2 separate regions of the Homo sapiens genome follow, and region 2 is linked to region 1. The links come from fine-mapping of genetic effects on plasma protein levels. Region 1 holds a variant in brackets. A gene starts in the other region. All regions are shown on one strand. Distances are between the middles of the regions. Region 1 has its middle 9.8 kb from the start of HP. Region 2 holds the start of HBQ1 (hemoglobin subunit theta 1).

The links. A credible set is the group of variants that fine-mapping cannot tell apart. PIP is the chance, under the fine-mapping model, that this variant and not a neighbour inherited with it causes the effect. The UK Biobank Pharma Proteomics Project read protein levels with antibody pairs (Olink). The fine-mapping took linkage between variants from a reference panel, not from the people measured, so its PIPs are less certain.
Region 2: it holds the start of HBQ1, and the variant in region 1 is the best candidate, but not a certain one, in a credible set for the plasma level of the HBQ1 protein (UK Biobank, PIP 0.65).

What each region holds. Positions count from the first base shown.
Region 1 is chr16:72,036,328-72,052,996 of GRCh38, reverse strand. No RefSeq gene overlaps it. Among named protein-coding and RNA genes, the nearest start is that of HP, 9.8 kb to the left of the region's middle. The variant CA/A (reference allele first, on the strand shown) is at 7,906.
Region 2 is chr16:178,857-186,856 of GRCh38, reverse strand. HBQ1 (hemoglobin subunit theta 1) reads right to left here and starts at 6,398. Exons shown (of 3, transcript NM_005331.5): 1 at 6,276-6,398; 2 at 5,987-6,191; 3 at 5,678-5,877. The coding sequence starts at 6,370. The coding sequence ends at 5,749. RefSeq lists a silencer at 5,278-5,627 and an enhancer at 5,638-5,897.

The DNA of each region.
Region 1 (16,669 bases):
ATACTCAAGGCTGGGGAGTGACTCACACCTGTAATCCCAGCACCTTGGGAGGCCGAGGTGGGTGGATCACCTGAGGCCGGAAGTTTGAGACCAGTCTAACCAATACGAATATGGTGAAACCCCATATTTTCTAAAAATGCAAAAATTAGTCAGGCGTGGTGGCATGCATCTGCAGTCCCAGCTACTACTTGGGAGGCTGAGACAGGAGAATTGCTTGAACCTGGGAGGCAGAGTTTGCAGTGAGCTGAGATCGCACCACTGCACTCCAGCCTGGGCAACAGAGCGAGACGTCGTCAAAAAAAAAAAAAAAAAAGTCACTCAACACCATTGGAAAATGTCAATAGGGAAATTTGCAAATCAATACCACAATGAAACACCACTTCACACCTACTAGGATGGCTACAAATTTGTGTGTGTGTGTGTGTGTGAGAGAGAAATGTTGGCAAGGATGTGGAAGAGTTAGAACCCTGGTACATTACCTTGCTAGTAAGAATGTAAAATGGTGCAGTTGCTGTAGAAAACAGTTTTATCGTTCCTCAAAAAGCTAAGCATAGAATTGCCATCTGACCCAGCAATTCCACTTCAGGGTATACACCCAAAGAATTAAAATCAGAGACTCAGAGACGTGTACACCAATGTTCATAGCAGCATTTTCACAGTATCCAAAAGGTAGAAGCAATCCAAGCGTCCATCCACAGACAAATGGATAAACAAACTGTGATATCTACATACAATGGAATATTATTCACGTATAAAAAGGAATGAAGTTGATACGTGCTACAACATGAATAAACCTTGAAAACATACTAAGTGAAAGAAGCCAGACATAAAGGGACAAATATTACTTGATTCCACTTATAATAAAGTATCTAGAGAATAGGCAAATGCATAGAAGAAAAAGTAGGTTAGACTTTACTAGGGGCTGGGAGAAGCAAGAAATGGGAAGTGATTGCTTAATGGGTACAGAGTTCCTGTTTGGGGTGATGAAAAAATTTTGGAAACTGATAGTGGTGATGGTTGCACAACATTGCTGGTGTAATAAATGCTGCCGAATTGTACACTTCAGAATGGTTAAAATCGGAAATTTTATGTTACAAATATTTTAGCACAAAAAATTCAAGAAGTAAATAAGTAAACTTATTTTTATTGGAGAAAGAGAAAGAAAGAGAAGGAAGGAAAGAAAGAAAGAAAAAGAAGAGAGAAAAGGAAGGAAGAAAGAGAAAGAAAGAAGACTCAGCAGTATGTTGTTCAGGCATAGATATCAAAGAGTCAAAACTGTATTTTTAAATTTCTTGTTGGAATGGAAAACCCAAAATGTAAAATGTTACATCTCAAGAGGAGGTAGGAGGAAGGCATAAGAGAAAGACACTTAGGTAAATATAAATAAATTGTTAATGACCCAGCTTTTGGGCTGGGTAGTAGGTTCATTAACGTACATTATATTATTGTGCTTTATTTTTAATAAAACACATATATGCCCACACATATATGTCACATATAATATATTATAAGTATCAAATAAAATATTTTAAAATATTAAGGAGGAGGGAGTCACCCGAAGGACATAGTGAGAGGCCCCTTTTCCATGAATTGGATCCAACAGGTGTGTGTGGGGATGTGAGAATCTACATTTCAAGCGTCCATAACTTCTCCCCAGCCCTGCAGGTATGAGGCAATAGACTGCAGCTCTTCAGTCATAAGTAGGAGCCCATTTCTCCACCCCTGGAATCTGGGGTTGGCTCTGTGACTATGTTGAAATAGTAGCAGATGTAACAAGGATAGTCTTGAAACATGCTTGTGAATTGGGGTTTGACTGCTTTTACAGCACCCGGAATCTGGGGGCTACCCTGTGAATGAGCCCAAGTTATTCCTCCATTGCTGGAGAATGAAAGGTCCCCATAGAGTGGAACCCAGGCATTCCAGCTGACAGACAGCCAGCCCCAAATTTCCAGAAGTCCTCCACAGATGCATGAGTGAGCTCCTGCCAAGATCAGCTGAAACTGATCCTGACCAAAACCACCTCCAGCTAAGCCCAGCCCACATTGCTGACCCACAGAATCATAAGCTAAATAGAAGATGACTGTCCTAAGCTACAAAGCGTGAGGAACACTCATAGGTAGCAGATGTTAACCAGTAGAACTGGTGTGTGCAATGATGGAAATGGAGCTGCTCTGGCTGAATCTGGGGTGAAGGTGTTAGAATTCTGCTCCCTAGGTCCCTGGGTTCCTGCTATCCTCTGTCACAGCTTGTCTTTACCTGTGCTTTGCCACCCAGGTCTTCCTTCAATGGCCAGAAGGAGGGAGCTACACCCTACGTTTTCCAAAGAGAACCCGCACTGTAGACTGTGAAGGATTCCACTAAACCTGGAGCACTTCTGTCCTATGGCATCCTCATGCCCTCCTCCCCCTCCCACCTCATCCAGTCCATCATCCCTCCCCACAGAAACTGTCAAATCTCAGCCTCTCACAGTCCTCTATCTAGAGTCTTGCAAATGTCACAGCCCCAGGCTTCTTTTTTCTTTTCTGTCCAGTTGCTGCTACTTTTCCACAGAGGGAAGAGATGGCCTCTATTTCTGCAGCTCTGTGGGTCCTCAGGGAAGTGGGGAGAATGCTGGTCCTATGAAATGGAGGGAGAGACTTCCTCCTCAGACTGGTGCCCTCCTAGGGTGTCTAAAATGAAACATTTCTCACCACTTTTGTAGAACAATTGTTTACTCACCAGGTACGTGAAAATTCACGTTCCTCCTCTGAACATACCCTGAACTCTATTACTCTGACCCCTTGTCTTGGGCAACAGGGGAGCATTCACACACAGCCTTCCTGCCCTGGGCATCTTTCATTAACTTGAGGAGAAACAGAATCCAGCCCAAAAGGCTTCTCTCTATCACTGGACAAGTCAAGATGGGAGATAGCAAGTCAGAAGACTCCACCAAGGAAAGTAGGCATATATTTTCTTGGGAGAATAGAAAGCAGGAAAGCTTGAAATATTAATAGGCCAGGACAGCAGTTGACAGAGGAGCTTGAAGGGGAGAGTTTTGATTTTAGAAGGAAAATATGATTTTTAAAAGTTCACTCTGCCAGCCAGGCATAGTGGCTCATGCCTGTAATCCCAGTGCTTTGGGAGGCCAAGGCGGGTCGATTGCTTGAGCCCAAGAGTTGGAGACCATATGGAATAAAATGGGCAACATGGTAAAACTCCGTCTCTACAGAAAATACGTAAAAAATTATCCAAGAACAGTGGCACATGCCTGTAGTCCCAGCTACTCTGGAGGCTGAGGTGGGAGGATTGCTTGCACCTGGGAGTTGAGGCTGTAGTGAGCTATGATCATGCCACTGCACTTCAGCCTGGGTGACAGTGAGACCCTGTCTCAAAAAAACAAAAAGTTTACTCTGCCATTACAAAAGTCTTGAAATTTTATAAGCTACCAAAAAATAAAAATAAGAAATAAGTCTCCGATAATTTCACCACCTCAAGACAACCAATAACCACTATTAACATTTTAGTGTTACTTCCTTTCAGATTTTCTCTGTGCATACTTTTACACAATTTTGATCATTCTTTATATAGAATTTTTTGGCCTAACCTTTTCATCTGTTAGAAATGCAAAATGCTTGTTCCCCAGTGCCATAAAGAAATAGCACTTGAACATAAATTTAATTCTCTCAGCAAGGCAATTTTTACTTTCTGCAGAAAGGGTGCCCATCACAGATGGAACAAAGACAAGAGCACACTTGAACAAAGGAGGTACAAAACATTTATATCTGACCCATCCAGACCCTACTGCTGTGTCCTGATTCCATTGGCTGGAACTGGACCTGACAGTCTAGGCAGCACCCAGTTGGCTAAAGGTTTAAAACTTTTTCTAAAGAGGTAATGGCAGAGGAGAAGAAAGGAAAAGAGGAAGTTGCTTATGAAAAGACTCAGAAAAGTAATAACATTCCCAAATAAGGAAGGGGCATAGGCTGCAAGCTGTGACATGCCTGTGCACAGGTCTAGCACAGATATCTTGGTTAAAGTACAGGGACATAGAATGTATTTAATTTTCTTACATTTAATAACTACATAGGATAGGGCTTAACAAAGAGTTATTAGCACAAAGCAAGGAAGTTTGAAGGAAGTTAGTTTTTAAAAGAAACTATTATCTCTAACACTTATGATTTATTCTTTAACAAGAAGGGAAATTTTGAAGAGGAACTTTTTGCTTTCTACATCACCCAATGTTGTAGGCATTTTCCATGTTGTAGAAAACTCTTAAAACATTTTAGGCCAGGCACGGTGGCTCACACCTGTAATCCCAGCACTTTGGGAGGCCGTGGCAGGCAGATCACGAGGTCAGGAGTTTGAGACCAGGCTGACCAACATGGTGAAACCCCATCCTACTAAAAATACAAAAATTAGCCAGGTGTGATGGCGTGCGCCTGTAATCCCAGCTACTCAGGAGGCTGAGGCAGGAGAATCACTTGAACCTGGGGGGCGGAGGTTGCAGTGAGCCAAGATCGCGCCACTGCACTCCAGCCTGGGTGACAGAGCGAGACTCTGTCTCAAAAAAAAAAAAAAAAAAAAAAATCTTAAATGCTATATTATACTCCTAACTTAAGGAGGTATCACATGTACTTTAATTTTACTGTTATAAATAGCTTGCATACACACAGGGAAGTGAGGTAAGGAGACCACACTCATTTTACTCCATTTGGATGTACAATTGATCCAGCATCATTTACTAAAAATACCAAACCTTAAGTGTTCATCTCAATGAATCTTTATAGTATGAAATATTTCTAGCACCCCAGAAAACTCCTTTGGGTTCCTCTCAGCCCACACCCCACCCCTACCAAAGTAACCACTGTCCTGACATCTGTCATGATGGAATACTTTTGCCTGGTCCTGAACTTTGTATAAATAGAATCAAATAGTAGGCATTCTTGGTTTCTGGCTTGTTTTTTCAACATAATGTCTGTGAGAAACATCCATGTTGTCACATTAGTTTCTTTTTTTATTGCTGAGAAGTATTCCATTGTGTGACTAAAGCACAATTGATTTATCCATTCTCCTGTAGATGGATGTGTGGATTGATTCCATCCGGGGGCTACTGCAAACCAAGCTGCTATGAACATTCTTGCATATATTGTTTGGTGGTTACCTGCATTCATTTCTCTTGGATACGTACCTGGTTTTGTCATAGGGTAGGCATATGTCTAGCTTTAATAGATTCTACCAGTTTTTCAATAAACTCTCCTATCATCAGTATATCAAAGTTCCAGTTGCTCTGCATCCTTGCCAATACTTTTTAAGTTTTGCCATTCTGCATATGTGTAGTAAAACATAATAATGGAGGCCAGGCACAGTGGCTCACGCCTGTAATCCTAGCACTTTGGGAGGCCAAGGCAGGTGGATCACCTGAGGTCAGGAGTTCGAGACCAGCCTGGCCAACACAGCGAAACCCCGTCTCTACTAAAAATACAAAAATCAGCCGGGTGTGGTGGCATGGGCCTGTAGTCCCAGCTACTCAGGAGACTGAGGCAGGAGAATCGTTTGAACCTGGGGGCAGAGGTTGCAGTGAACTGAGATCGCACCACTGCACTTCAGCCTGGGGGAAAGAGCAAGACTCCATCTCAAAAAATAAATAAATAAATAAAAATAATAATAATGGCTTTAATTTTGCATTTCCCCAATATCAAATGATGTAGACCACTTTTTAGATTTGTGTTGGACCACTTAGATATCCTCTTTACAGTATGTCTTCTCCTTGTAGATTTGTTGTCTTTTTCTAAAATATTCTGAATACTAGTCTTTTTTTGGATAAATGTATTGTAAACATGTTCTCCCATTCCATGGTTTGTCCTTTAATTCTTTTAATCTTGTATTTTGATGAACAGAAGTACAGAAGTTCTTAATCTTAAATAAGTCCTAATTTGTCAGTTTTTTAAATTTCATAGTTAGTGATTTCTGTGTTCTGATTAAGAAATTTTTGCCTACAAGGTTGTGACAATATTCTCCTATATGTTTTTCTAAAAGTGTATTGTTTTACCTTTCAAATCTAGGTCTATGATCCATTTGGAATTAATGTTGGTATAGGATGTGAGAGAAAAGTTCATTTTTTCCATATAGGCATGCAATCGATCCAGTATTATTTGCTAAAATGACCATCCTTTGTCCCTGAATTCCAGTGGTATCTTTATTATACATCAGGTGATTATATATGTGTTGGCCTCCTCCTGAATCCTCTATTCTTTTCCATTAGTCTATTTGTCTAATCTGGAGCCATTGTCATACTGTCTTAATAATGTGTGAAAGGAGGTTGGGTGCGGTGGCTCACGCCTGTAATCCCAGCATTTTGGGAGGCCGAGGCGGGTGGATCACGAGGTCAGGAGATCGAGATCATTCTGGCCAACATGGTGAAACCCCATCCCTACTAAAGTACAAAAAATTAGCTGGGCATGGTGGCGGGCGCCTGTAGTCCCAGCTACTCGGAGGCTGAGGCAGGGGAATCGCTTGAACCCGGAAGGCGGAAGTTGCAGTGAGCTGAGATCGCGCCACTGCACTCCAGCCTGGGCGACAGAACGAGATTCTGTCTCAAAAAATAAAAATAAAAAAATAAATAATAATAATAATAATAATAATAATAATGTGTGAAAGGAAACTATCTTAAACCCCCAGAATCACTAAGCTAAAGGGAAAAGTGAAGCAGAGAACTGCTTAGGGCAAACCTGCCTCCCATTCTATTCAATGCCACCCCTCTGCTCACTGAGATAAATGCATATCCTTTTGCCTCTTTTGGAGAGGCTCATCAGAACCTCAAAAGAATGTAACCATTTGTCTCTTATCTACCTATGACCTGGAAGCCCCCTCCTGGCTTTGAGACTTGTCCCGCCTCTGCGGACGGAACCAGTGTTCATCTTACGTATGTTGATTGATGTCTCAGGTCTCCCTAAAATGTATAAAACCAAACTGTGCTCTGACCGCCTTGGACATATATCAGGACCTCCTGAGGTTGTGTTGGGTGTGCGTCCTCAACCTTGGCAAAATAAGCTTTCTAAATTAACCGAAACCTGTCTCAAATTTTGGGGGTTCACAAATGGGAACTTTTTTTGAGACAGGGTCTCACTGTCCCCCAGGCAGGAGTGCAGGGACACAATCTGCAGCCTCAACAATGATCTCCAACAATCCTCCCACCTCAGCCTCACAGGTAACTGAGACTACAGGTATGCGCAACCACACACAGCCAACTTGTTGTTGTTGTAGTTGTAGAGATGTGGTTTTGCCATGTTGACCAGGCTGGACTTGAACTCTTGGGCTCAAGTGATCCACCCACCTCAGCTTCCTAAAGTGCTGGCATTACAGGCATGAGCCTCCACACCTGGCCAATAATGGGAACTTTATACTAAATCTTGCTATCTGGTATTATAAGTGTTCCAACTTTATTTTCTTTCAGAGTTTGTCTTGACTATTCTAGGTCTTTTCCATTTTATGTAAATTTTAAAATCAACTTTCCAATTCTCACAAAATGTCCTGATGGGATTTTTATTGGGATTACATTGAATCTCCAGATCACTTTGGGGAGAGTTGACATCTTGACTCTGTTGAGTCTTTCGAGTAATGCACGTAGCATCTCTCTTCATTTATTTAGGCTGTCTTTAATTTTAATGCCTTGTTCATATTGATACAGACCTCTGGCACCTCTTTCATTAGATTTATTCTTAAGCATTTGATGTTTATGTTATTGTAAATGATATTTTTTAATTGATTTAAATAGTATAGGAATAAATACCTCAGTAGCCATGAAATGAGAACCCTGGATTTTCACAAGAGTATACATGACCTTCAAACAGAATGGAGAGTGGACTGTTGAATTCAGAACAGCACATGTTGTTCAGAATTGCAGTTTATCTTGATAAGAAAATTAAA[CA/A]AAGACATTCACATGATTACACCTATTTCTAGAATTTCTCCTTTTTTTCACAGTCACCAGGACCAGGGGCTACAGGGTCCCACGGTGCCTGGAACATAGGCATTGCTTCCCAGTTGCACTGCCTTACGGTCAGCAATTCTCTTCTCCAAAACTGAGCCACTGGCAGACACACATATTGATATTTTGTACCATACACATTGATATTTTAAGCTTTTTAAGAGCTTCTTAAAAGTAGGATCATCCCTGACAGTTTGTAAATGAGGAACTTCCAAGATCCAGGCTGCTAAATCAAATATTATCCTCAGACCAGCTTCCTGTCAGCAAAGACAGCCAACCAAGGTGGGAAACCCACACAGCCTGTCAAAACTTACAAAGAAATGCTGCCTTTCCCAGCATGAAACTGGTCAGATGTCAAAGGCATGAGGATATTAGTACGAGTGTAAAAACTGACTCTATATTCAAAAGAATTCATATCAACCTTCCTTAATTTCTTCAACCTACCACGTTTGTGGGATGGGTCCCAGGAAACAAGGTAGGACCAAGTCGGTGTTTTTTCATTCACCCTTATCTCCATGGCCCAGCAATGCCTGGCATACAACAGAGGCTCAGTCCGGTTGGTTGAATTGAATGGGGGATAAACATAGCCTCTGCCTTCAAAGAGTTCAGAATAGGGGCAGAAATAAAAACTGTAACACGAGTAAGTAATGCCTGTATTGTCATCTTCTGTCTGCAGTGGAGAAGATCCAGCCCTCAGAAGCATAAAAGCTGTCCGCAGAACCAGCCCTGCAGGTACTTTAGGAGAAAAGCCAGTCAACTCCTAGTAATAACAGGTAACATTGGGAGGGTTCTGTGTGCCAGGCACTGTGCTATGTGCTTTCTGTGTATTTACTCATTTAATTCTTCAACAGCCCATAAGCATTGGGTCTTTTTATTATCTAATAATCCCGTTTTTTATAAATGGGGCACAGAGAGGATAAGGAACTTGTTCAAGGTAACACAGCTAGCAAAGAGAGGAGCCAGGATTCAAACCCAGGCCAAGCCCTTGACCACCCTGGGGTGCTACCTCTCCCACATGACAAACTACACAGAATTCTCAAGACTCCCTCACATGTGCTGGGCACAGTGGCTCATGCCTATAATCCCAGCACTTGGGAGGACATGCTGGAGGATTGCTTGAAGCCAAGAGTTCAAGGTGAGCCTGGGCAACATAGGGAGATCCATCTCTACAAAAATAAAAAAATAAGAAGTTAGCCAGGCATAGTGGTATGCACCTATAGTTCCAGCTACTCAGGGGACTGAGTGGGGAGGATCACTTGAGCCTGGGAGAGGCTGCAGTGAGCTCTGATTGCGCCACTGTACTCCAGCCTGGGCAACAGATCAAGACCCTGTCTCAAAAATAAAATAAAAAAGATTCCCTCACATAATCAGCATCAAGGGCTCACCATTAGAGTCACTTTTAAGGGTCATCTGGAGACAGATCTTTCACTGGGTTAAGGCATTTCTTACCTGGAAGGGATAACAAACTTGCTAGCTAACCACATTAGCCAGGCTAAGGGTGTCAATTGTACATGGCTATGGAGGCCCATTAAGAACCTTGTGTATCAGATTTAAACCATGACTGAGGCAGTGATGCCCAGCAAAGAGGATAAGGAGGACCTTAAAGCACTGGCACCCAAGGCTGGAGAAGCCTGAGGCTGCAAAGAATTGAAGGTTTTCTCCAAGCATGACCCCTGTGTTGGCCTTGGGGGCCCTGGAGCAGTCTGAAACCATGTGGACCATGGCTGGGAAGCACGTTAGGAAACAGATCAAGTAAACTACCTGACAAAGCATTTGGGCAAGAGTGCCCTGGGTGCCAGCCAGATGCAGAGAGGAGTTGAACCATGCACCCTGGTCATAGGACAGATCTTCAGAAGGAATGGAATTTAAATGGAGCTCTGCTTTTCAGCAGTCAGTGCAAGAAATCAGGGACTTGCATAAACTTGCCAAGCCGCAAAGCAAATCCCCTTCCACTGAAGAGGTGCTGGGCTTGTCGTAGGATGTGACCCACTGGATGCTGGCAGGCGGTTCTTCTGAGAGACTGAGAGATGCTGGAAAACTCAGCATCTCAGTGAATGACTGGAAGAACAAGGGAGTAAAAGAACATGAAGGTGGGCCACCCTATTCACACACACACACCTATGTGTGTATAGATATTTGTATATATGTGTTTTTATTTTTAAATGATTCTGTCAGGGTCTCAGATAGAGGTGAAATTCTAACCTACTCAGAGTGATTTCTTTTAGGTTCCCAGACCTGGGATCCACATTTTTTGCTCTACTGAGGTAGGAAGGTGTCACTAGATCCATTAAGAACTGCAAATTCAACATCTGTGAGAATGGTTGAAGCTCAAAAGACTGGCCAGCTTCTCAAATACCCAGTGACTGAAATACGTAACTGGCCAGCTTCTCAAATAGCCAAGGCAGTGCCAAGGTTACTACTCAGGAGAATGTCTTCCATGTGCCTGGGGCAGACAGGAAGTGTTCTGACCCTCTGCCCACAGCTTTGTTCCTGTACCCACCAACTCAAGTGATTAATGGGGTGGCAGGTGGTGCAGCAGCCAAGTGACCTTCACACACTGTAACTCCTTTTGTTTCCTATGGGACACTTTCCAGATGGGGTTTTCAGCACTCAGGAAACCTCTTTGTGGCTGGCAGTAATGCAAGAAGTGCAGTGTTTATCCATTTCCTCTCCTGAAGCCCTGCCCTTTGGAGCCTCGTCCTTGTATTGCTGCCCAGGTATTTCACAAATTCCAGATCATTCCCACACTGTTCCTGCACACACAGCGCTATGCCCTGTCCCCTGCTGTCCTCTTGCATGTGACAAGCCACAGTGACTTTATTTCCTATGTGTCTAACCACAAGGCTCTTACAGAAATTTTCCCTGGCTGCCAAGACTCATTCAACATCATAGGTGGCCCAGACTAGAGGGTAGGTAACATTATCATCTCAGAATGTTCTTATGGTGTGTTGGGACCGGAGGTCTGTACCTGGAGGAAAAAGAGAAATCCTGAAACATGTTTTAGCCAAGTAGTAAGCACATAACATCTCTTCCAAGCAAATATAAAACTATAGTAGACCTCAATCTGTCTTCTTTATTAGCTAGGATTAAATTTGACTAAGTGACTTAACAGGGATTAAAGCACACAAGGTCCCAGCCTGGGCAACAGAGTGAAACCCCATGCCTACAAAAAATACAAAAATTAGCCAGGTGTGGTGGCACACACCTGTAGTCCCAGATGCTCTGGAGGCTGAGGTGGGAGGATCACTTGAGCCCAGGAGATTGAGGCTGCAGTGAGCCATGATCATGCCAGTGTACTCCAGCCTGGGTGACAGAGCAAGTGAGACCTCGTCTAAAAAATTTTTTTTTAATTTTTAATTACACACACACACACACATACACAAGGTTCTGTTTTCTCAAGTAAAAGAGGTAGGGAAGTAGGCAGACAGAGCTGGTATTAGTGTCAGCATTAAGCTGTTTCCAGCTTTTGCCTCCATCATCCCTGCAGAATGACCCTGATCCTTAGGTCTAAAATGGATGCCAGAGCTCCAGCCATCATACCCATATTCCAGGCAGCAGCAGACTTTCCAGAAACTTCACACAATACTTTCATATATATGTCATTGAATAGAACTTGGTCACTGGACCACATCCAACTATACTGGAAATCAGGAAATGTCTTTATGCTGGGAATCCAGAACATGGAACCATTGATATGGTTTGGCTGTGTCCCCACCAAAATCTTATCTTGAATTGTAGTTCCCATAATCCCCACATGTCATGGAAGGGACCTGGTGGAAGGTAATTGAATCAGGGGGCAGTTATCCTCATGCTGTTCTCATGATAGTGAGTTCTCATGAGATCTGATGGTTTTATAAGGGGCTTTCCCCCGACCTTCACTCTGCACTTCTCAGTCTGCCGCCATGTGAAGAAGAACATGTTTGCTTCCCCCTTCCACCATGATTGTAAGTTTCCTGAGAACTCCCCAGCCATGCTGAACTGTGAGTCAATTAAACCTCTTTCCTTTATAAATTACCCAGTCTCAGGTATGTCTTTATTAGCAGCATGAGAATAGACTAAAACAGCCATCTACAAGATAACTGGACTGATCTCATGAGAGGTTACTGTTCTAGATTAAAAGAAACTAGCTGGGTGCGGTGGCTCAATGCCTGTAATCCCAGCACTTTGGCAGGCCAAGGTGGGCGGATCACCTGAGGTCAGGAGTTTGAGACCAGCTGGCCAGCATGGTGAAACCCTGTCTCTACTAAAAATACAAAAAAAATTAGCTGGGTGTGGTGGCAGCCGCCTGTAATCCCAGCTACTCGGGAAGCTGAGGCAGGAGAATCGCTTGAACCCAGGAGGTGGAGGTTGCAGTGAGCAGAGATTGCGCATTGCACTCCAGCCTGGGCAACAGAGTGAGACTCCCTCTCAAAAAAAAAAAAAAAAAATAGGCCGGGCACAGTGGCTCATGCCTGTAATCCCAGCACTCTGGGAGGCCAAGGCTGGTGGATCATGAGGTCAGGAGATCAAGACCATCCTGGCTAACACAGTGAAACCCCATCTCTACTAAAAAATACAAAAAATTAGCCAGGCGTAGTGGCAGGCGCCTGTAGTCCCAGCTACTCGGGAGGCTGAGGCAGAAGAGTGGCGTGAACGCAGGAGGCGGAGCTTGCAGTGAGCCGAGATCGCTCCACTGCACTCCAGCCTGGGCAACAGAGCGAGACTCCGTCTCAAAAAATAAAAATAAATAAAATAAAATAAAAGAAATAAAAGAAACTAAAGAGGCATATGGATGAGCGTTGATTGGATATGGAAGATATTTTGGATACAACAGGAGAAATTTGAACACGAACTCAGTGTTAGATGATATTAGCAAATCATGGTTAATTCTCTTATGTGTGATTATAGACTTATGGTTACATAGGAGCATGTACTTAGATAATGCAGGTTACAAAGTACTTAGGAGTGAATCAAAATACACAATAAAAATAGGTTAAAAGATTGGCAGAGCCAACAGGGAAAAGATAGTAAGAATTACTGAGTGTAGGTGGAAGGAGTATGGATATCTATTATACTATTCTTTCTGATTTTCTGTATATCTAAATTTTCTTTTTTTTGAGACAGAGTCTTGCTCTGTCACCCAGGCTGGAGTGCAGTGGCACAATCCTGGCTCAGTGTAGCCTCTGCCTCCCAGGTTCAAGCAATTCTCCTGCCTCAGACTCCTGAGTAGCTGGGACTACAGACATACACCACCATGCTTGGCTGTTATTTGTTTTTTTAGTAGAGACAGGGTTCCCCATGTTGCCTAGACTGGTCTAGAACTCCTGGCCTCAAGTGATCAGCCCATCTTGGCCTCCCTAAGTGCTGAGATTACAGGCATGAGCCACCATGCCCAGCCTAAAATTCCTTATAATACAAATTACAGGAGGGTAATTATCTATTTGGGCTGACTGTTCCTCAGCTTTCTCATGTGAGGCCGATGGCCTCCTGGTGAAAATGAGTGAGGTTCCTGGCAGTATTCTGGAACCAGTCAACACAAAGGGTCTGAGGAGTGGGTTGAAGCCCATGGTCTCAGCCAAGATGGATCTCAGAGCTTGTGGATGTGGGGAGAGAAAGCTGCCCTCCAGCCGCAGCTTCTCCAATAGTCTTCTGTCATCACCCAGCACTGCTGCGAGGATCCACAAATCCCATCACTTATGTGAGATAACAACATGGCAGAAGACAGAAAATGAATCTAAGACATCTTATATAGTGGAGACATCAGTACTCTGTCAGGACATGACTGGGTGGAGTAGAACAAATGCCAGACTTGAGATTAGGGGAATTTGTTGTCCCCTCCACCATTTCTGCCCATATCACCTTGGAGCAGGTGCTTAATCTGTTTCCTCGCCTGTAAAATGGGGATTGTAATTGCCACCCTCACCTACTCCACAGAGCTGTCTGAGGCTCAAATAAGATAATGTGTGTGATTTCTGGAAAATGTGCAAGACCATTTGGAAGAAAACCTTCTTGTCCCTGAACTACTGCTTCATCCTGTTAGGCTCGCATACAATTATCCACAGACCCCAGAACCAGGTGAACTTTTCCAAAACCCTGCTTGTGGTGGCTGAAAAATATCTCCACAAATTATTGGACATTCCTCCCTTCAAAAGTGGAAGCCCTTCCCTTGAGTGGTGGGCTGGACTAAATGACTTGCTTCTAACATAGGGTTGCCAGAGAAAATATATGATACCCAATGAAATTTGAGTTCAGATAAACAACAAATAAATTTTAGAATAAGTATGTCCTGAATACTGCATGGGATAGACGATAGACTTATACTAAAAGTGTATTCATTGTTTATCTCAAATTCAAATTTAACTGGGCATCCTTTTGTTTTAGTTTTGCTTAAACTAGCAACTCTATTCCAATGTGTAGAATGAGGCTGGGCACAGTAGCTCATGCTTGTAATCCTAGCACTTTGGAAGGCCAAGACTGGAGGATCACTGGAACCCAGGAGTTCGAGACCAGCCTGGGCAACATAGTAAGATCCAATCTCTACAAAAAATACAAAACTTAGGGAGCCCTAGTGGCACGTGCCTGTAGTCCCAGCTACTCAGGAGGCTGAGGTGGGAGGATTGCTTGAGCCTGGGAGGTTGCGGTGAGCCGTGATCATGCCGTTGCACTCCAGCCTGGGTGACAGAGCAAGACCCTGTCTCCATAAATAAAATTAGAATGAATGTGGCATAAGTAATGATGTGTGACTTCCAAGACTAGGTCATAAAGGCACTGTAGCTTCCACCTTGCTCCCTCTTAGATCACTCACGCTGGAGGAGCTGGATGCCATGTTGTGAGAACACTCAAGCAGCCCTATGGAGAGGTTCACCTACACTTCCTGCCAACAGCTTGCATCGGGAGGAGATGTTCATACCCTGGGGGCTCCAGTTCTATTGAATCCTGGCCGTATGGTTTAGGGAAGTTATTTAATCTCTCAAAGCCTTTGTTTTATCTGTAACTATGGGTATACTAATATCTATTTTCAGGACCCATTTGTGATAATCAGAAATATAAAAATAATAGCTAACATTTATTAGAAATTTAGAATATGCTAAGCACTATTCTAAGCACTTCACATTTAATCCGTGTAGTAACCCTCTGAGATCGGTGCTGTCCTTATTCCCATTTTACACATTGGGAAACTGAGGCACACAAAATTTACATGATCACCCACAGCTAATAAGTACATAATCTGATGGGCACATAACATGCATCCTTTTTTTTTTTTTTTTTTTGAGACAGAGTCTTGCTCTTGTTGCCCAGGATGGAGTGCAATGGCCTAATCTCGGCTCACTGCAAACTTCTGCCCCCTGGGTTCAAGTGATTCTCCTGCCTCAGCCTCCCGAGTAGCTGGGATTACAGGCGTGCACCACCATGCGCAGCTAATTTTTGTATATTTTGTAGAGATGGGTTTTCGCCATGTTGCCCAGGCTGGCCTCGAACTCCTAAGCTCAAGCAGTCCTCCCGCCTTGGCCTCCCAAAGTGCTGGGATTACAGGCTTGAGCCACTGCGCCCAGCCTGCATCCTTTTATTTTTTTTGAGACAGAGTCTTGCTCTGTCGCTCAGGCTGGAGTGAAGTGGCGCCATCTTGGCTCACTGCAACCTCCACCTCTCAGGTTCAAATGATTCTCCTACCGCAGCCTCCCGAGTTGCTGGGACTAGATATAGGTGCACACCACCATGCCCGGCTAATTTTTGTATTTTTAGTAGAGATGGGGTTTCGCCATGTTGCCCAGGCTGGTCTCAAAATTCTGGCCTCAAGTAATCTGCCCACCTCAGCCTCTCAAAGTGCTGGGATTACAGGTGTGAGCCACCATGCCTGGCCAATATTTATCTTTTTAAAAGTTGCTGTTGAGGCTGGGCACGGTGGCTCACACCTGTAATCCCAGCACTTTGGGAGGCCGAGGTGGCGGATCACTTCAGGTCAGGAGTTGGAGACCAGCCTGGCCAACATGGTGAAACCCCATCTCTACTAAAAATACAAAAAATTAGCTGGGCGTGGTGGTGAGCGCCTGTAATCCTAGCTACTCTGGAGGCTGAGGTGGGAGAATCGCTGGAACTCGGGAGGCAGAGGTTGCAGTGAGCTGAGATCGCGCCACTGCCTGCACTCCAGCCTAGGAAACAGAGTAAGACAACATCTCAAAAAAAATTAATTAATTAATTAATTAATTAATTAATTTAAAAAAATTTGCTGTTAGCATATCATTGAACCCTCCAAACCACTGTTTTTACAGTTGAGAAAACAGGGCCTCAGGGAGGTTAGGTAAATCTTACAAGGCTGACTCCAATGTCTATACTTCCACCCTATACCCCCAGTGAGTCTGGGGTCAATAGCACACCCCCGGTGCCCTCCTGCCCCACCCCTGGATGGAATGGGCCATTTTCCTGATATACCCCTAAGTCCTCTGCCGGTGCTCCTCGTTCATGGACATTACTAATCACTACCAAGGATTGGTATTGTCAAATTTTGCCCCCAGACAAGATCGACCTGAGGGATGCATCTAAATTAAACTATGCACACAATTAGAACAAAGAGGAGTCTGGATTTCTCAAAAATACTAAGAGGCTTTCCTTTAATCAGCATTTTTGAAAGCTCCAAACGCAATTGGCAGTCTCTAAATTTTTAAAGGAGACTAACCGGAACAATTAACCAATGTCTGTAAAACAGAGAGCCCTGTATCTCCCTGCTCC
Region 2 (8,000 bases), 72 Mb after region 1:
TGTTCCCCCCGTGTCGCTGTTCCCCCCGTGTCGCTGTTCCCCCCGTGTCGCTGTTCCCCCCGTGTCGCTGTTCCCCCCGTGTCGCTGTTCCCCCCGTGTCGCTGTTCCCCCCGTGTCGCTGTTCCCCCCGTGTCGCTGTTCCCCCCGTGTCGCTGTTCCCCCCGTGTCGCTGTTCCCCCCGTGTCGCTGTTCCCCCCGTGTCGCTGTTCCCCCCGTGTCGCTGTTCCCCCCGTGTCGCTGTTCCCCCCGTGTCGCTGTTCCCCCCGTGTCGCTGTTCCCCCCGTGTCGCTGTTCCCCCCGTGTCGCTGTTCCCCCCGTGTCGCTGTTCCCCCCGTGTCGCTGTTCCCCCCGTGTCGCTGTTCCCCCCGTGTCGCTGTTCCCCCCGTGTCGCTGTTCCCCCCGTGTCGCTGTTCCCCCCGTGTCGCTGTTCCCCCCGTGTCGCTGTTCCCCCCGTGTCGCTGTTCCCCCCGTGTCGCTGTTCCCCCCGTGTCGCTGTTCCCCCCGTGTCGCTGTTCCCCCCGTGTCGCTGTTCCCCCCGTGTCGCTGTTCCCCCCGTGTCGCTGTTCCCCCCGTGTCGCTGTTCCCCCCGTGTCGCTGTTCCCCCCGTGTCGCTGTTCCCCCCGTGTCGCTGTTCCCCCCGTGTCGCTGTTCCCCCCGTGTCGCTGTTCCCCCCGTGTCGCTGTTCCCCCCGTGTCGCTGTTCCCCCCGTGTCGCTGTTCCCCCCGTGTCGCTGTTCCCCCCGTGTCGCTGTTCCCCCCGTGTCGCTGTTCCCCCCGTGTCGCTGTTCCCCCCGTGTCGCTGTTCCCTCCGTGTCCGTATTCCTCCCGTGTCCGTATTCCTTACCTGCACCTTTTCCTGCAGGTGGGACTCAGGGTACTTGTTCAGCACATGTGCTTTCCTCTTCGTCTTCTAGGAGGGAGTGGTTGGGTCTGGGCTCCCTGTTCCCAAGCCCACGTTGTGTTCATGGCTGTGGCTGCCTGGGTGATGAGTGTGAGTTTGCACCTGGGTTTCCCTGGGCCTTAAGCAGACAGCGTCACCCTCAGAGCCATCACCACTGTGAATCATTTGGATCTTTTTCCATCTGGGCATAAAATTGTATGTGTAGACAAATAGTTGTTTTTTGCTTTTTTGGGTGGGGGGGGTCAGGGTGTGGGGTTTACAGAAAAGGTGCTGTGCCCCTGGCCATCCTGTCCCCCGTGTCTGCTGATTACAGCTGAAGGACAGGTCCTCCTGGGATGCAGCATCAGTGTCCTCGGCCGCCCCTGGTAGCCTCCGGGGCACCATCCGTGCAGGGAGAGGCGCTCCTGCCTCTCTACCGTGCAGGGACAGTCGGGTGGGCTTTTGGTACACCTGCCAGGTGGTGCTGACCAAACTGAGCTTCATGCCCCCGGTGCAGTTTCGCTGATAGCACCCACAACAGCTCTTCCTTTCTCCCTCCTCCCTCCCTCCTCCCAAATAACCCACACCAGGTTCTGCTGTCAGAGTCTGCGATAGGAGTCCCATGTTTTCACTTTTTTCACCCAGTACAGCGAGTCCTTCCTTTCCACTGCAGTACCAGTAAATCTCGCCAAAGATGGCTACTCGGAGATATATGGGTCTGGAAGTGTATCCCTCCCATGTGAAGGGGTCTGTAGTGTCAGGTGGAACCGGCCCTTGTCTCCACCCACAGGGACCACCTTGGCCTGCAGCCCAGACTGCAGGAGAACAGAAGAGAAGGGGGCCTCTCCAGAACATTTGGCGATTAAAAAAAAACTTTTTTTTTTTTTTTTTGAGACGGAGTCTCGCTCTGTCTCCTAGGCTAGAGCGCGGTGATGCAGTCTCGGCTCACTGCACCCTCTGCCTCAGCCTCCCGACTAGCTGGGAATACAGGGGCCCGCCACCATGCCCGGCTAATTGTTGTATTTTTAGTAGAGACAACGTTTCACCATCTTGGCCAGGCTGGTCTTGGACTCCTGACCTCGTGATCCACCCGCCTTGACCTCCCAAAGTGCTGGGATCACAGGCGTAAGCCACGGCACCTGGCCAAAATTATTTATTTATTTTTTTTGAGACGATGCTTGCTTTGTCACCCATGCTGGAGTGCAGTGTTGTAGTCATGGCTTACTGCAGCCTTGAACTCCTGGACTTAAGTGATCCTCCTGCCCCAGCCTCCAAGTAACTGGGACATAGGTGTGCACTACCACACTTGGCTAATTTTTTATGTTTTTGTGGAGACAGGTCTCACTATGTTGCTCAGGATATTCTTGGGAACTCCTGGGCTCAAGCAGTCTTCCCACCTCAGCCTCTCAAAGCACTAGGATTACAGGTGTGTCACCACAGCTGGCAGTGATTTTTTTAAAGGTAAATGGCTCTGTTTGGTGGGTGCTGTCGGCGCCAAACTAGCTGGATGGGCTGTGCCTTGTACCACCTTTGCCTCCTGCACAGGGTTACCTTGGGCTTGGGGAGCGCATGGGCCTTGACCGAAGCCCTGAGTGGGTTAAGGGTAGTCCTGGGGGGAGGAGAGGAGGATGCGGAGGCCGTTTCCTACCCCAGTGTGCAGCCGTCATGGGACAGGCAGGTGCTGGAGCAGGCCGAGGACCCCTATCTGGGGTGGCATCCTTTGGGGGAGGGGTGGCAGCCTGGAGCCAGAACCACGTTGGCCAGGATGGAACTTTTTTTTTTTTTTTTTTGAGACGGAGTCTCGCTTTTGTCACCCAGGCTAGAATGCAGTGGCGCAAACTCGGCTCACTGCAAGCTCCGCCTCCCTGGTTCACGCCATTCTCCTGCCTCAGCCTCCCGAATAGCTGGGACTACAGGCGCCCGCTATCACGCCCGGCCAATTTTTTGTGTGTTTTTTTTAGTAGAGACGGGGTTGCACTGTGTTAGCCAGGATGGTCTCAATCTCGTGACCTTATGATTTGCCCGCCTCGGCCTCCCAAAGTGCTGGGATTATAGGCGTGAGCCACCGCGCCCAGCCAGGATGGAACATTTTTTATTATAGTAAAGTGCACACAAAACGTGCCGTTATAACAGTTTTTCAGTGTACAGTTCAGTGGCACGACGTGTATCTACATTGTTGTGCAGCCTTCACCACCACCTGTGTAGGAGTGGCTTTGAAAAGGCAGAGTATGGCCAGGCGCGGTGGCTTACATCTGCAATCCCAGCACTTTGGGAGGCCAAGGCAGGTGGATCACAAGGTTAAGAAATTGAGACCATCCTGGCCAACATGGTGAAACCCCGTCTCTACTAAAAATATAAAAATGAGCCAGGCGTGGCAGGCACCTGTAATCCCAGCTACTCAGGAGGCTGAGGCAGGAGATTCGCTTGAACCCGGGAGGTGGAGATTGCAGCGAGTTGAGATTGCACCACTGCACTCCAGCCTGGGTGACAGAGCAAGACTCCATCTCAAAAAAAAAAAAAAAAAAAAAAGGCAGAGTGCAAATTCCCCTGGACTTGAGTGGGCATGAGTCTCCCCAACAGTGTGGAGGGCCCACAGCTGCTCCCCCTGCTCCCTTGGATCTGCACCTCTGGGTAGGTTCTGTACCAAGTGGGCTGAGCCCTTGAGCCAGGGCCAGCTCCCTCCAACCTCCACATCTCCAGGGAGGATGCGGTCTGGCTCTTCCACCTTCAGTGATGCTCCAGATGTAATCCCAGGAGGGTGTCCACACCTAGTTACAGGAGTCTGAGAGCCTGGTGCTTCCTCAGGGCCCCTGAGCCTCCTGGGCTCCAAGTGCTTGCTCCTGTGCGCGAAGTTGCAGCAGCCGCAGGTCCTGTGCTCTGGGAGCACACAGGATGATTGAGGTGAGACTGACTCGAGCTACCCCAAGGATAGAAACTAGAACGTGGATCCAAGAGGGGGCTCACGGGTGGGCTAGGGGCCAGATTTTTTCTTTTCTTTTTTTTTTTTTTTGTTTGAGACAGTCTCGCTCTGTCGCAAAGCTGGAGTGCAGTGGTGCAATCTCAGCTCACTCCAACCTCCGACTCTGGTTCAAGTGATTCTCCTGTCTCAGCCTCCCGAGTAGCTGGGAGTACAGGCATGCACCACCACACCCAGTTAGTTTTTATATTTTTAGTAGAAACGGGGTTTCACCATGTTGGCCAGGCTGGTCTTAAACTCCTGACCTCAGGTGATCTACCGGCCTCTGCTTCCCAAAGTGCTGGGATTACAGGCGTGAGCCACCATGCCCCGCCCGGAGATCTAATGTAGTAGAGATAATAACCTTTATCTGCCACATGTAGCAAATATTTTCTCTGGCTCTTCCCCCCGCCCCCTCCTCTTTTTTTTTTTTTTGAGACGGAGTCTCGCTCTGTCGCTCAGGCTGGAGTGCAATGGTGTGATCTCGGCTCACCGCAACCTCCGCCTCCCGGGTTCAAGCCATCCTCCTGCCTCAGCCTCCTGAAGTTGGGATTACAGGCGCCCGCACCACACCCAGCTAATTTTTATTTTTATTTTTATTTTTTCTGAGACGGAGTCTCACTCTGTCGCCCAGGCTGGAGTGCAGTGGCGCAATCTTGGCTCACTGCAGGCTCCGCCTCCGGGGTTCACGCCATTCTCCTGCCGCAGCCTCCCGAGTAGCTGGGAATGCAGGCGCCCGCCACCACCCCCAGCTATTTTTTTGTATTTTTAGTAGAGACGGGGTTTCACAGTGTTAGCCAGGATGGTCTCGATCTCCTGACCTCGTGATCCGCCCGCCTCGGCCTCCCGGAGTGCTGGGATTACAGGCGTGAGCCACCGCGCCCGGCCTGTCCACTTTTCCTCAGTGTCACCTTGAGAATACCATTTCTGAGGAAAAGCATCTCTACATGTGCCTAGAAGACTGGAACAGCTACGCATCAAATGTTAGGGGTGTGGATGAGGCCTGCCTCTACCCCGTGTGTGTGTGTGTGTGTGTGTGGCATGTCTGTGTTACACATGTGCTCTTGGATATGACAGCCATGTCCTGTTCTTGTTTACACATGACACAGTTTGCCGCGTGTCAAGCGGCAGCTGAAGGATGTGCTGCACCCATTCCTGGACCTGGGATACACAGGAAGGTGCAGCAAGCCTTGTTTTCGGAAGTTCTACAATGACCATGATTGGTTTTATGTGGACAAATATAAAAAAGCTTCACTCTCCGTAGTGATGTCGGGTGACGGCAGGGGTCTGGGTCGGTTCCTGGTCCACCTCGCCAGCTACGTGGCTAGGTGCTGGGGCTGGTCCCACCTCCTTCACCACAACCCCCCGGCACCCCAGGTCCCCGATTCCAGGCCACAGCCGCGGCGGCTGGGTGCTGCGCAGGTACCGGCTCGCGCCGGGAGGGGGCGCTGTTCCCTAACCTGCTCCGAGTCAGCCCCGGGCCCTTAACGCCGCCCGCGTGCGTTCACGCTGCAGGTGCGGAGTTCTCGCGGTGGGTCCGGGCCGCGTGCTCGGCGCAGAGTGGGGAGGGCGAAGCCAGCCGCCCTCGGGATGGGCAGAGTCGGCCGTCCTCGCAGCCCGCCGCCCGGGGCGTCCCGCGGCCCTCACCTACCACCCCATTCGGGAGGGTCAGGCTGCACGCAGTTCGGTGCCCCCATGGCCGAGGCCCCAAACCTGCTGGAGGTGGAAAGAGGCGCGCCTGGATCTGGGCACTGGGGGTGTGCCCCAGGCCCTCGCCTTTCCTTGGGGAGGGGCGGCGCCTTCCTCTCGCGTCCTGACCTCGAGAGAGCACGGCAAGAAGGCTGCTCCTGGGAGAGGCTTTACTCAAACACGGGGAAGGTCGCCTGGGGATCCCGCGGCCACCCACCCACAGTTCAGCGGTACTCGGAAACCAGCGCCGAGATAACGTGGCTCAGGAACTTGTCCAGCGACGCCTGCAGCGCGGGGCTGAAGTCTCCGGGGTAGTGCCGGGCGAGGGTTACCAGCAGGCAGTGGCCCAGGAGCTGCGGCGAGCGCTCAAGGCTCACTCGCCTGCACCCGCCCCGCACGCCCCCCGCACCCACCCCGCCGGGGCCCTCCCGGGGACAGGGGCCCAGCACGGCAGCCGCTCACCTGGAAGCTGGCCGGGTCCACTCGCAGCTGGCACGCGTGCAGGTGGCTCAGCGCGGACAGCGCGTGGGGTAGGTCGTCCAGGCGCTCCACGGCGAGGCTCAGCGCGTCCGCCACCTTCTGGCCGTGGGCTCTGACTTGTGAGGAGCCGGGGCTCAGGTCCAGGTGGGAGAAGTAGGTCTTCGTGGCGGGGAAAGCCAGGAAGGTCCTGCGAGAGGAACGTGGGTGAGGCGCGTCCGGGGGGCTTGGGGAGGGAGGGCCCCTGGGGGCGGGGGCGCCCAGCCTGCCGCACCTTTCCAGGGCCTCTGTCGTGTAGACGCCGACGTTGCTGCCCAGCTTCTTCCACAGGGCGCGCACCAGCGCCCGGTCCTCCGCGGACAGCGCCATCCCCGCGCTGGAACCCGCCGCGCCCTGCGACCCCGCTGCGCCTGCGCGGACCGGCCAGGGGTCCCGCGGCCTCCAGGGGGCGCCGCGCCGCAGCTTCGCCGCCCGGGGGTCCAGGGCCTCGTCGGAGATCCCGGGACCGCGCGCGCTCAATCTCCGACAGCTCCGACCGGGGCCCTCTGAATCGCCCTGGATCCAAGGCCCCCCGTCTTAGGTGTTCACTATATGGTATTTAGTCTCTACTAAAAACACAAAAATTGGCCGGGTGCGGTGAGTGCAGTGGCGCCATTCCGGCTCACTGCAACCTCCGCCTCCCGGGTTCAAACGATTCTCCTGCCTCAGCCTCCCGAGTAACTGGGATCACAGGTGCATGCCACCATGCCAATTTTGTATTTTTAGTAGAGACAGGGTTTCACCGTGTTAGGCTGATCTCAAACTCCCGACCTCAGGTGATCCTCCCGCCTCAGCCTCCCAAAGTTCTGGGATTACAGGCGTGAACCACCGCGCCCGGCCATGTACATTATTATAGCACTGAATTTCGGCATGGATTTGGCATTGGAAGTCAGTTTATTCTGCCTCTTGATTCTATTGTGACACTTGCCCGAGTCTGTTTTCTCATTTATTATATAAAATGAGGGTGACAGTTTCTTCTCAGATTGTGAGAATTAAACGGATAACAACTGTGAGGTGCCTGACTCGTAGCAGGTGTTTCTTCAGGGCAGTGAACATTTATTGAGTACCTGGGATGTAACCCAAGAATAATAGTAAATGCATATGCAGCACTCACTCTGCTGTACCCCTTATATCTTTTTTGTTTTAAAAAAGGTGATAAAATAGACATAAATTACCATTGTAGCCATTTTTCAGGTATAAAATTTGGTGATATTAAGAACACTTAGTGTTATGCAGCCATCACCACTATCTAGGTCAGAACTTTTTCATCATCCCAAACGCCACCTCGGTACTCATTAACAGTAACTCTGGCCCCGGCAGCCACTAATCCGCTTTTGGTCCCTATGGATTTGGCTGTAGCGGATATTGCATATAGATGGGGTCATGCAGTTTGTGACCTTTGGTGTCCGGCTTCTTTTACTTGTCAAATATTTTCAGGGTGCAGCTACATCCTATCAGTGCTTCATTTCTTTTTGTGGCCAAATAATATTCCATTGTGTGTATAGACCACCACATTTTGTTTACCCATTCATCTACTGATGTATAATTTTTATAATTTTTTTTGAGATGGAGTTTTGCTCTTGTTGCCCAGGCTAGAGTGCAATGGTGTGATCTCGGGTCACTGCAACCTCTGCCTCCTGGGTTCAAGTGATTCTCCTACCTCAACCTCCCGAGTAGCTGGGATTACAGGCGTGCGCCACCACACCCGGCTAATTTTTTGTATTTTTAGTAGAGATGGGGTTTCCCCATATTGGCCAGGCTGGTCTCGAATTCCTGACCTTGTGATCTGCCCACCTTGGCTTCCCAAAGTGCTGGGATTACAGGCGTGAGCCACTGTGCCCAACCACCGTGCTAATTTTTAAATTAAATTAAATTAGATTAAATTTTTTTTTGAGACAGAGTTTCGCTCTTGTTGCCCAAGCTGGAGTGCGATGGCGCGATCTTGACTCACTACAACCTC